2 separate regions of the Homo sapiens genome follow, and region 1 is linked to region 2. The links come from fine-mapping of genetic effects on gene expression. A gene starts in region 2. The other region holds a variant in brackets. All regions are shown on one strand. Distances are between the middles of the regions. Region 1 has its middle 21 kb from the start of LINC01876. Region 2 holds the start of LINC01876 (long intergenic non-protein coding RNA 1876).

The links.
Region 1: its variant is fine-mapped to the expression of LINC01876 in blood mononuclear cells (TOPMed, PIP above 0.99). The same link has a PIP of 0.9 or more in ovary, tibial artery, tibial nerve and whole blood.

Annotation. Positions count from the first base shown.
Region 1 is chr2:156,273,354-156,278,595 of GRCh38, forward strand. No RefSeq gene overlaps it. Among named protein-coding and RNA genes, the nearest start is that of LINC01876, 21 kb to the left of the region's middle. The variant C/T (reference allele first, on the strand shown) is at 2,891.
Region 2 is chr2:156,252,330-156,257,571 of GRCh38, forward strand. LINC01876 (long intergenic non-protein coding RNA 1876) reads right to left here and starts at 2,602. Exons shown (of 4, transcript NR_110250.2): 1 at 2,449-2,602.

The sequences.
Region 1 (5,242 bases), 21 kb after region 2:
GGAAAAATCATGCTTCCAAATGGATATCTAGGTAATGAGCATTTTAACAAATGACAACGCCTTGATTTGTTGAAGCAGTGCAGAACAGGAGAAATGACTGTAGGTTTACATCTTGGCTCAGCCACCAACCAGAGTGTTATTTGGGGCAAGTTATAGAATATACGTTTGGTGAAATGTGAACAATAGAACCAACAACAAGAAGTTGTGATGTGTTTTAAATGAAAGAACATAAGTGAGTCATTTCATGCCTGGCTCACGGTAAATAGCCAATAAATAAGCAAATGGTCTATATCTTGATTATAAAATGTTATACATTTGTCAAAACTCATCAAACAATATTCTTGAATATTACTATGTGTAAACACCCTAGTAAACCTGACTTTTAAAATAATGATATTAAAAATGAGAGGCTAGGCAGCCAGAATCACAATCAAAATTATATCACAGATCCCATCTGCTGAGGACACCACAACCAATGAGGCTAAGCATGGAACATTAGGTACTCCTGCTGACACTGCTTGACCTGCCACATTACCAGAATAAATTCCCATCTTTCCATGCTTCTCTGCATCCCTAGCTCCAAATTCAGAAGTCCCAGATGGATGGAGATGATTTGTTGAAATAGATCACATGCAACACCACGACTGTGAAGAACCTTAGGAAAAAGCATCCTATCTTGTTGGTTTCTGTAGTAAGAAAGCTGGCCAGAACTCAAATGAAGGAGAATTCTCAAACACAGAAAAAGCATTTTAAAAATCAACTACACTGCAACATTTAGAAATTTTTGCAAATTAATAAGAAAAAGACAGGCACATCAATATAACATTAAAGTATATAAAATGGCAATGCCCTTATCCCAAACATAATAACATTTGAAAATATTTGATATTTAATCTCACATTAATTACTAGTAATGAATGTTAAGTTAAAATTATAACATATTTTAAACATAAACTTGGCAAATCGGCTTTTTATGTGTCCAGGTTTGAAAAGGATTTGGGGAAATGAATACTTTAATAAACCGAGATGGCAGTATACATTGCTATTATAACATTTCTTGAGAGTACTTGGCAATACCTATTAAAACCTTCAAAAATGTTCATGCTCCTTGATCAAGCAATTTCATTTCTATGGATTCAACCTAATAAAATATTTTTAAAACTACACAAAGACAGATACACAAGTTTTGCTTCTAATAGCAAAATTTGGGGAAATTACCAAGGTCCAATTGTAGACAATTGATTACATAAACCATATGACATTCTTCATACTAAAGAATATTAATCACATAAAATTGTGTTGTGAATAATATTTAGTGACATGGAAAAAATAAATGTCCACTTCATCAAGTAAAATAAAGTTTATCAAGATTTGTGTACCTCTGATAAAATATCTTCACTTACATGGAAAGATACTGCAACTATACATACAAAATGTTAAGAGTGGTATTTCTGAATGGTGATAGCCTAAGTGGTTTTTTGTTTTGTTCAACTATTTTTTTTAAAAAACTATTTAACAAATGTGTCTTTTATATTGAGAAAAACAACAAACTTATTTTTTGAAGTTAGAAGTTGTCCTCTCAGCCTCCAAAGACTCATTTCCCTTAACTAATCATTATGTATTTATCATCTCTGGATGTATCCAATTCCATTTTAAAGCTAGTTTCACATTTTCCATCAAAATCACCTCCTTCAGTATCAAATTTCATATGTTTACTACCTGCAGCAAATTACATATTTTTTATTTGTGTTAAGATTTCCTCTTTTAAACTTCAAAAGAAGCTTGCATAAGAAAGGAATTAACATTTATTGAACACCTACTATGTGCCAGGAACTATTTAAATCCCATTCACATATGTTAGTTCATTTGCATTTAAGTCTGGTTCCAATTATACATAACTTTCATAATTTGACAGGCGTCAATCATTTTTCATTTTCGCCTGCATATTGCCAGACAGATGAGAGCACATATTTTTAGATTGTCCTCAGATGGCAGCACTCACATTCCCTTGATTCAGTTCAGGTGCCCTTTTCTGGACCTGCTCTAGCTATTCTTCTGGTTCCAAAATTCCACACATTGTTCTCCTGACTCTAATACTCTTTTTGATAATGCCCCAAAATTGCTGGCATTTGGGGAAGTAGGCTGCTTTCCTGTGGGAGAATCTACTCTTGGAAATCACTCAAGTAACCCCCAGTTCATAAGAATGAAAAGATTAGCAATATATTTCATCAGTATATTTTAAATATAAATTAAACCTACATCTCACACATCTGAGTCCCTGTTAATAACATAACAACAAATGCTTCCACGGCAATATATTTCTCAGTTCCTATTTTTAACGAGGTTCTACCTTCTGGAAGATGATCTTATTCATTCATTCTCTGTGCCTTGTCTGGACAACAAAGTAGATATGTTCTATGCCAAATTGATCTGGAAACCCGAAGAAACATAATTATCATTAAGCAATACTTTGGCTTCTAGGGTCAGGAGAAATCTCAAGGATTGGAAACTGAAGACTAAATCTGTTCATTTGGTTCAGCAATGCAGTCATTCTGTATTAAGAAGCTATGGCTAAAAATGACCCAAAATCACAGAACACCTCTGTTCTTTCTCTATGTCTCTCTCTCCAACAAAACATGTAAAGTAATTACAGTGATTGAGTTAAAAGGTTCTTGAAATTATGGTTATGCAAAGGATGGCAGGGAGTCACAGAATGACCTTGGTAACCCCAGCAAGCTGATCTCTCTACAAGATCATCCTAAAAAACTTTGGTTTCTATTCTTCAGGAGCTAATGAGCTAAGGAAATTTGATAACTAACACATGACTTTATATTTCAGTATTAAAACTTTATTACTGCAATGAATATGGGTACTGGGCCATAGAGCCAAA[C/T]CCCCAAAAAAATCTCCAAATGGAGCTAATGAAAATTATGAGGCAGACCAAGAGGAAATCAAGCAGAAGTCCTAAAATAAATCAAATACTCCATAAAGCCATACATGAATGCCAATGTCTATGAACAGGATTACCATATGCCTTATAGACCAATCATGTTATATGAGGCTTTTACTATAAAACTCATAGAATCTAATTGATTCTCAAGGCTTTAAAGGAATTAGAATCTGGCCAAAACTCCACCATATTTATAAGAGTCCTCTTCAATATAACCATCAAGGGACCACCCGGCCTCTGCTTAAAACTGCCCAGGGATAGGGAGCTTATTAACTCCTGAAGCAGCCTATTTCAGCTCCAGAAAGCTCAAATCACTAGAAAGTTCTTTTATTACTAAACTGAAATCTGCTGCTGTGATCTTTCTGTATTCATCCTCTAGGAAGACAGTACATCTGAGGGTTTCCTAAAATGAATGCATATGGTTACTAAAAATTTCTAATGTGTATGCATATCGTGAATGTATACATTTTTCTCCATCAAATGTCAAAAGCATTTATCATATTCACAAAAGTTAAGAATCTCCATTGTAGGGTAATACAGAATAAATCTAAACTTCATCCTGCATGAAAGATACCTGAAGACAAAAATCACACACAGTCTTTGTGTGATTATGAGTCCTCCTTTTTCAAACCAACCATATGTAATTCCTCAACCTGTTTCTCACTTCAGCAGCTTATTGAACTCATTACATTTTTCCAACATGTTAAGTGCCACCTGTATAATATAGTCCCCAAATTAAACACAATACTCTGGATATTCTGCAGCACAAATAAAGCAAGTTTGTCACTGCCCTCTTTCCTGGGTGCTCTACATCTGTTAATGAAGCCTAAGCACTGAACTGTTTCTATCAGTTGGGAAGTTGCTAGCTCTGTGGCCAGGCATTGCTCTATACAAAAGTGAATAAGGACCCAGGAAAGTGGGGTGGCAGTCCAGCCAACAGAGCTGTTCACTTCACTAGCCAGGTGCATGGCCAGGGTCGGGGAAGTCCAGAGCTGTTGAGTCATGGGCCAGCTCTCTTCCATAGGTAGGAGGAAAACCTTAACATATGTACAAGCTGCAAAAGGTCTCTAGGCACCTACTTACTACCACCTAATATTATCAAAATGCCAGGTTGCATCTGTCAATAGACCATCTCTACACAACACTTAAGCAATAAGTCAATCAATCAATAAAAGTTCTCTTCTCTATTCCACAGACTTGATGCTTCCTTACCAGAATCTTTGCTAGAGGACAGAAGAAAGATTTGAGTTCATCTTTCTAACTTTTCTGTATTAATAAAGGAAAGAAAATGAGGTGTAAAAGAGGCACCCAGAAAGACATATCATCTGATAAGAAAGTGATTCTTCTGATTCCTCTACCTTGAACCACCTTCTTTATTAGTTCCTCCACTAAAAGTTGCTAACAAAATTGGTCCATGCATGAGACTTACATGACACTATAACTTGCTAATGGGCAGTCTGGCTGTACTTTAAAAGAAAGTTTTCATGACCTATGGATTCTCTTGCCGTCCTGTCTTGGACCAGGCAGCACCTGCCACTGGAAAGAAGGGAGATGGTAATCCATTTCTTTTATTCCATGTAACTGAATAGATAAACAGACTTAACATCCTTCTGGAATGCAACTAGAGTTGCCAATTTTTGCAAATAAAAATACAGAATTGCTAGTTAAATTTTAACATCAGATAAAGAATAAATAATTACTCGTGTAAGTATGCCCTGTGCAATATTTGAGATATACGTCACAGTGAAAATGTATGTATTGTTTATCTGATGTTCAAATTTAACTAGCTATCCTGTATTTTGCCTGACAACTACACACCCAATTATTTCAACCCTTCTTTTCTACTTTCCTTCTCTCTTTCTCTCCCTCTTTCTTTCCTCCTTCATCCCAATATCTTTCTTTTTGTGCCAGCATATACATCAAGGGTTTGGAGGTTCTAAGATCTGAACTAGGACCAAAAAAAAAAGAGTCTAAGAAATTCAAAGTGGACCTCAAGCCCAAGCACATTCTCCAAATCATCTTTAAGCAGAACTCTGCCCTTGGCATGGTGGTAGAAGACTCGTTATTCAGTTATTTTTAAACTTGTACTTTTTTTTTGTTTGAATAATGTTCCTCGACCACTGTAAAACTTCCTGATTAAGAGACAAGAGAGGAGAAGAGAGCAACAAAAAAAGATCCATACTTAGGGAGGCCCTGACTTAATGCCAACAAGTATTATCAAAACTTTATCTTTGAACTGTCATACATGCCTTGTGGAATGCACAATAGTACAGCTAGTCAGGAAAAGTTTGACAG
Region 2 (5,242 bases):
ATAGCTAAATGAATATGAACATTTTCTATTTCAGCTCCACAGCCTCTGAAAACTGTTGATGCAAAGCAAAAAGACTTTAGCCAAAATTTTAATATAGGCTTTTTCAAACACACAGTCAAGTGGAAAGAATAACATGATAAAATCCATATAAACTCCAAATGAATTCTGAATTCAGTTACTTTTAGAATTTTCCGTATTTGGCAGAGGTTGGTGGCACATGCCTGTAATCCCAACACTTTGGGAGCAGGCAGATCACCTGAGGTCAGGAGTTTGAGACCAGCCTGGCCAACACGGCGACACCCCATCTCTACTAAAAATACAAAAATTAGCCAGACGTGGTGTCATGCATCTGTAATGCCAGCTACGCAGGTGGCTGAGGCATAGAATTGTTCGAACCTCTGAGGCTGAGGTTGCAGTAAGCCCAGATGGCACTACTACACTCCAGCCTGGGTGACCAAAAAAAGAAGAAGAAGAAGAATTCTTCCATATTCTCTCTCTCTTCTTTAATTTCTATTTTATTTTATAAACATATCAAAAATTGGCAACCATTTAATATTTATAAGATATGAGGGACATATGCCAACAAGTAAAAGATCAAAACCCATGAGTATCCAATGGAAAAACTATTATGTAAAGAGATGATCAACCACACTGATTTTTATGTGGATGCAAATTAAAACATGAGGCACCACTTTATATACATCACTTTGACAAAAACTAGAAATATCACCAAATGTTTGTGAGATTATGGAGAAATAGGAATCTTGTGCATCGTGGCAGGCATGAAGAGCAACAGAGCCCTTTTAGTCTGGCAGTGTGAACTGTGGTATGGAATGTGCATCGCCTAAGACACAGCAATCTTTCTCCTCAGTATATGTCCAGAGAAATATGTGCAGAGATACCAAAGGAGTTGTGTGTCATTATGTTTATCACAGCATTATTTGTGATAGAAGGAAGTTGGAAGCAATTTAGGTGCACTTTGCTAGGGAAATAAAGTAGAATAAATGTGTACTATGGAATACTATGATCAGAGCAAAATGACACATAGGAAAATAGGCATAAATCAAGAAAACATAGTGAAGAATAAGAAAATCAAAAAATGAATGAGATTAAAATACGCTATCACTTATATAAATATAAAGCATACAAATATAAAACAATATTTTATATTTTTCAGATTCCATATATATACATATATATGTGTAATCTGAAAAAATACATATATCCAAATGCAGTTGAGTGGTCAGGGGTGGCTTGAAAATAACAAGAAGATAAAAGGTGAACAAAGAGAAAAGAGGATAGCATACCATGAACAGAGGAATTTGATTGATTTTGTTTTCTGCAGATAATTTTTTAACTTCTCAATAAAATAAAATAAAAGTAATGTAAAACTCTACTTAGTTCATTTGCAAATTTCTGCCTGTCATAAACCTTGTGCCCATCAACAATGCATAATTTCCTAATGGTTGATCATTTCTGTATATAATTACTTTTCTGTTAAGAACTCTTGGGCTTGCAAAATAGACCCCAAATAGCCAATTCAATCCTAAGCAAAAAGAACAAAGCTGGAGGCATCACGTTACCCTACCTCAAACTATACTACAGGGCTACAGTAATCAAAATAGCATGGTACCAGTACAAAAACAGACACACAGACCAATGGAACAGAATAGAGAACCCAGAAATAAGACTGTATACCTGCCACTATCTAATCTTTGACAAATCTGACAAAAACAAGCAATGGATAAATTTATTGAATGGGGAAAAGATTTTCCATTCAATAAATAATGCTGGGATAACCGGCTAGCCATATGCCAAAGTTTAAAACTGGACCCCTTCCTTACACATTATACAAAAATTTACTCAAGATGGATTAAAGGCTTAATTACAAAACCCAAAACTATAAAAACCCAGAAGACAACCTAGACAATATCATTCAGGACATAGGCATGGGCAAAGATTTCATGACAAAGACACCAAAAGCAATTGCAACAAAAGCAAAAATTGACAAATGGGATCTAATTAAAGAGCTTCTGCACATCAAAAGAAACAATCAACAGACTAAACAGACAACTACAGAATGGGAGAAAAATTTTTGCAACCTATGCATCCTACAAAGGGCTAATGTTCAGCATCTACAAGGAACTTTAACAATTTCCAAGAAAAAACAACCCCATTAAAAACTGGTTGAGGAGGAGCCAAGATGGCCGAATAGGAACAGCTCCAGTCTACAGCTCCCAGCGTGAGCGACGCAGAAGACGGGTGATTTCTGCATTTCCATCTGAGGTACCGGGTTCATCTCACTAGGCAGTGCCAGACAGTGGGCGCAGGTCAGTGGGTGCGCGCACCATGTGCAAGCCGAAGCAGGGCGAGGCATTGCCTCACTTGGGAAGCGCAAGTGGTCAGGGAGTTCCCTTTCCGAGTCAAAGAAAGGGGTAAAGGACGCACCTGGAAAATCGGGTCACTCCCACCCGAATACTGCGCTTTTCCGACCGGCTTAAAAAACGGCGCACCACGAGATTATAAGCCGCACCTGGCTCGGAGGGTCCTACTCACAGGGAGTCTCGCTGATTGCTAGCACAGCAGTCTGAGATCAAACTGCAAGGCGGCAGCGAGGCTGGGGGAGGGGCGCCCGCCGTTGCCCAGGCTTGCTTAGGTAAACAAAGCAGCCGGGAAGCTCGAACTGGGTGGAGCCCACCACAGCTCACGGAGGCCTGCCTGCCTCTGTAGGCTCCACCTCTGGGGGCAGGGCACAGACAAACAAAAAGACAGCAGTAACCTCTGCAGACTTAAATGTCCCTGTCTGACAGCTTTGAAGAGAGCAGTGGTTCTCCCAGCACGCAGCTGGAGATCTGAGAACGGGCAGACTGCCTCCTCAAGTGGGTCCCTGACCCCTGACCCCCGAGCAGCCTAACTGGGAGGCACCCCCCAGCAGGGGCACACTGACACCTCACACGGCAGGGTATTCCAACAGACCTGCAGCTGAGGGTCCTGTCTGTTAGAAGGAAAACTAACAAACAGAAAGGACATCCGCACCAAAAACCCATCTGTACATCACCATCATCAAAGACCAAAAGTAGATAAAACCACAAAGATGGGGAAAAAACAGAACAGAAAAACTGGAAACTCTAAAACGCAGAGCACCTCTCCTCCTCCAAAGGAACGCAGTTCCTCACCAGCAACGGAACAAAGCCGGATGGAGAATGACTTTGATGAGCTGAGAGAAGAAGGCTTCAGACGATCAAATTACTCTGAGCTACGGGAGGACATTCAAACCAAAGGCAAAGAACTTGAAAACTTTGAAAAAAATTTAGAAGAATGTATAACTAGAATAACCAATACAGAGAAGTGCTTAAAGGAGCTGATGGAGCTGAAAACCAAGGCTCGAGATCTACGTGAAGAATGCAGAAGCCTCAGGAGCTGATGCGATCAACTGGAAGAAAGGGTATCAGCAATGGAAGATGAAATGAATGAAATGAAGCGAGAAGGGAAGTTTAGAGAAAAAAGAATAAAAAGAAATGAGCAAAGCCTCCAAGAAATATGGGACTATGTGAAAAGACCAAATCTACGTCTGATTGGTGTACCTGAAAGTGATGGGGAGAATGGAACCAAGTTGGAAAACACTCTGCAGGATATTATCCAGGAGAACTTCCCCTATCTAGCAAGGCAGGCCAACGTTCAGATTCAGGAAATACAGAGAACGCCACAAAGATACTCCTCGAGAAGAGCAACTCCAAGACACATTGTCAGATTCACCAAAGTTGAAATGAAGGAAAAAATGTTAAGGGCAGCCAGAGAGAAAGGTCGGGTTACCCTCAAAGGGAAGCCCATCAGACTAACAGTGAATGTCTCGGCAGAAACCCTACAAGCCAGAAGAGAGTGGGGGCCAATATTCAACATTCTTAAAGAAAAGAATTTTCAACCCAGAATTTCATATCCAGCCAAACTAAGCTTCATAAGTGAAGGAGAAATAAAATACTTTACAGACAAGCAAATGCTGAGAGATTTTGTCACCAGCAGGCCTGCCCTAAAAGAGCTCCTGAAGGAAGCGCTAAACATGGAAAGGAACAACCGGTACCAGCCACTGCAAAATCATGCCAAAATGTAAAGACCATCAAGACTAGGAAGAAACTGCATCAACTAACGTGCAAAATAACCAGCTAACATCATAATGACAGGATCAAATTCACACATAACAATATTAACTTTAAATGTAAATGGACTAAATGCTCCAATTAAAAGACACAGACTGGCAAATTGGATAAAGAGTCAAGACCCATCAGTGTGCTGTATTCAGGAAACCCATCTCACGTGCAGAGACACACATAGGCTCAAAATAAAAGGATGGAGGAAGATCTACCAAGCAAATGGAAAACAAAAAAAGGCAGGGGTTGCAATCCTAGTCTCTGATAAAACAGACTTTAAACCAACAAAGATCAAAAGAGACAAAGAAGGCCATTACATAATGGTAAAGGGATCAATTCCACAAGAAGAGCTAACTATCCTGAATATATATGCACCCAATACAGGAGCACCCAGATTCATAAAGCAAGTGCTTAGTGACCTACAAAGAGACTTAGACTCCCACACATTAATAATGGGAGACTTTAACACCCCACTGTCAACATTAGACAGATCAACGAGACAGAAAGTCAACAAGGATACCCAGGACTTGAACTCAGCTCTGCACCAAGCAGACCTAATAGACATCTACAGAACTCTCCACCCCAAATCAACAGAATATACATTTTTTTCAGCACCACACCACACCTATTCCAAAATTGACCACATACTTGGAAGTAAAGCTCTCCTCAGCAAATGTAAAAGAACAGAGATTATAACAAACTATCTCTCAGACCACAGTGCAATCAAACTAGAACTCAGCATTAAGAATCTCACTCAAAACCGCTCAACTACATGGAAACTGAACAACCTGCTCCTGAATGACTACTGGGTACATAACGAAATGAAGGCAGAAATAAAGATGTTCTTTGAAACCAACGAGAACAAAGACACAACATACCAGAATCTCTGGGACACATTCAAAGCAGTGTGTAGACGGAAATTTATAGCACTAAATGCCCACAAGAGAAAGCAGGAAAGATCCAAAATTGACACCCTAACATCACAATTAAAAGAACTAGAAAAGCAAGAGCAAACACATTCAAAAGCTAGCAGAAGGCAAGAAATAACTAAAATCAGAGCCGAACTGAAGGAAATAGAGACACAAAAAACCCTTCAA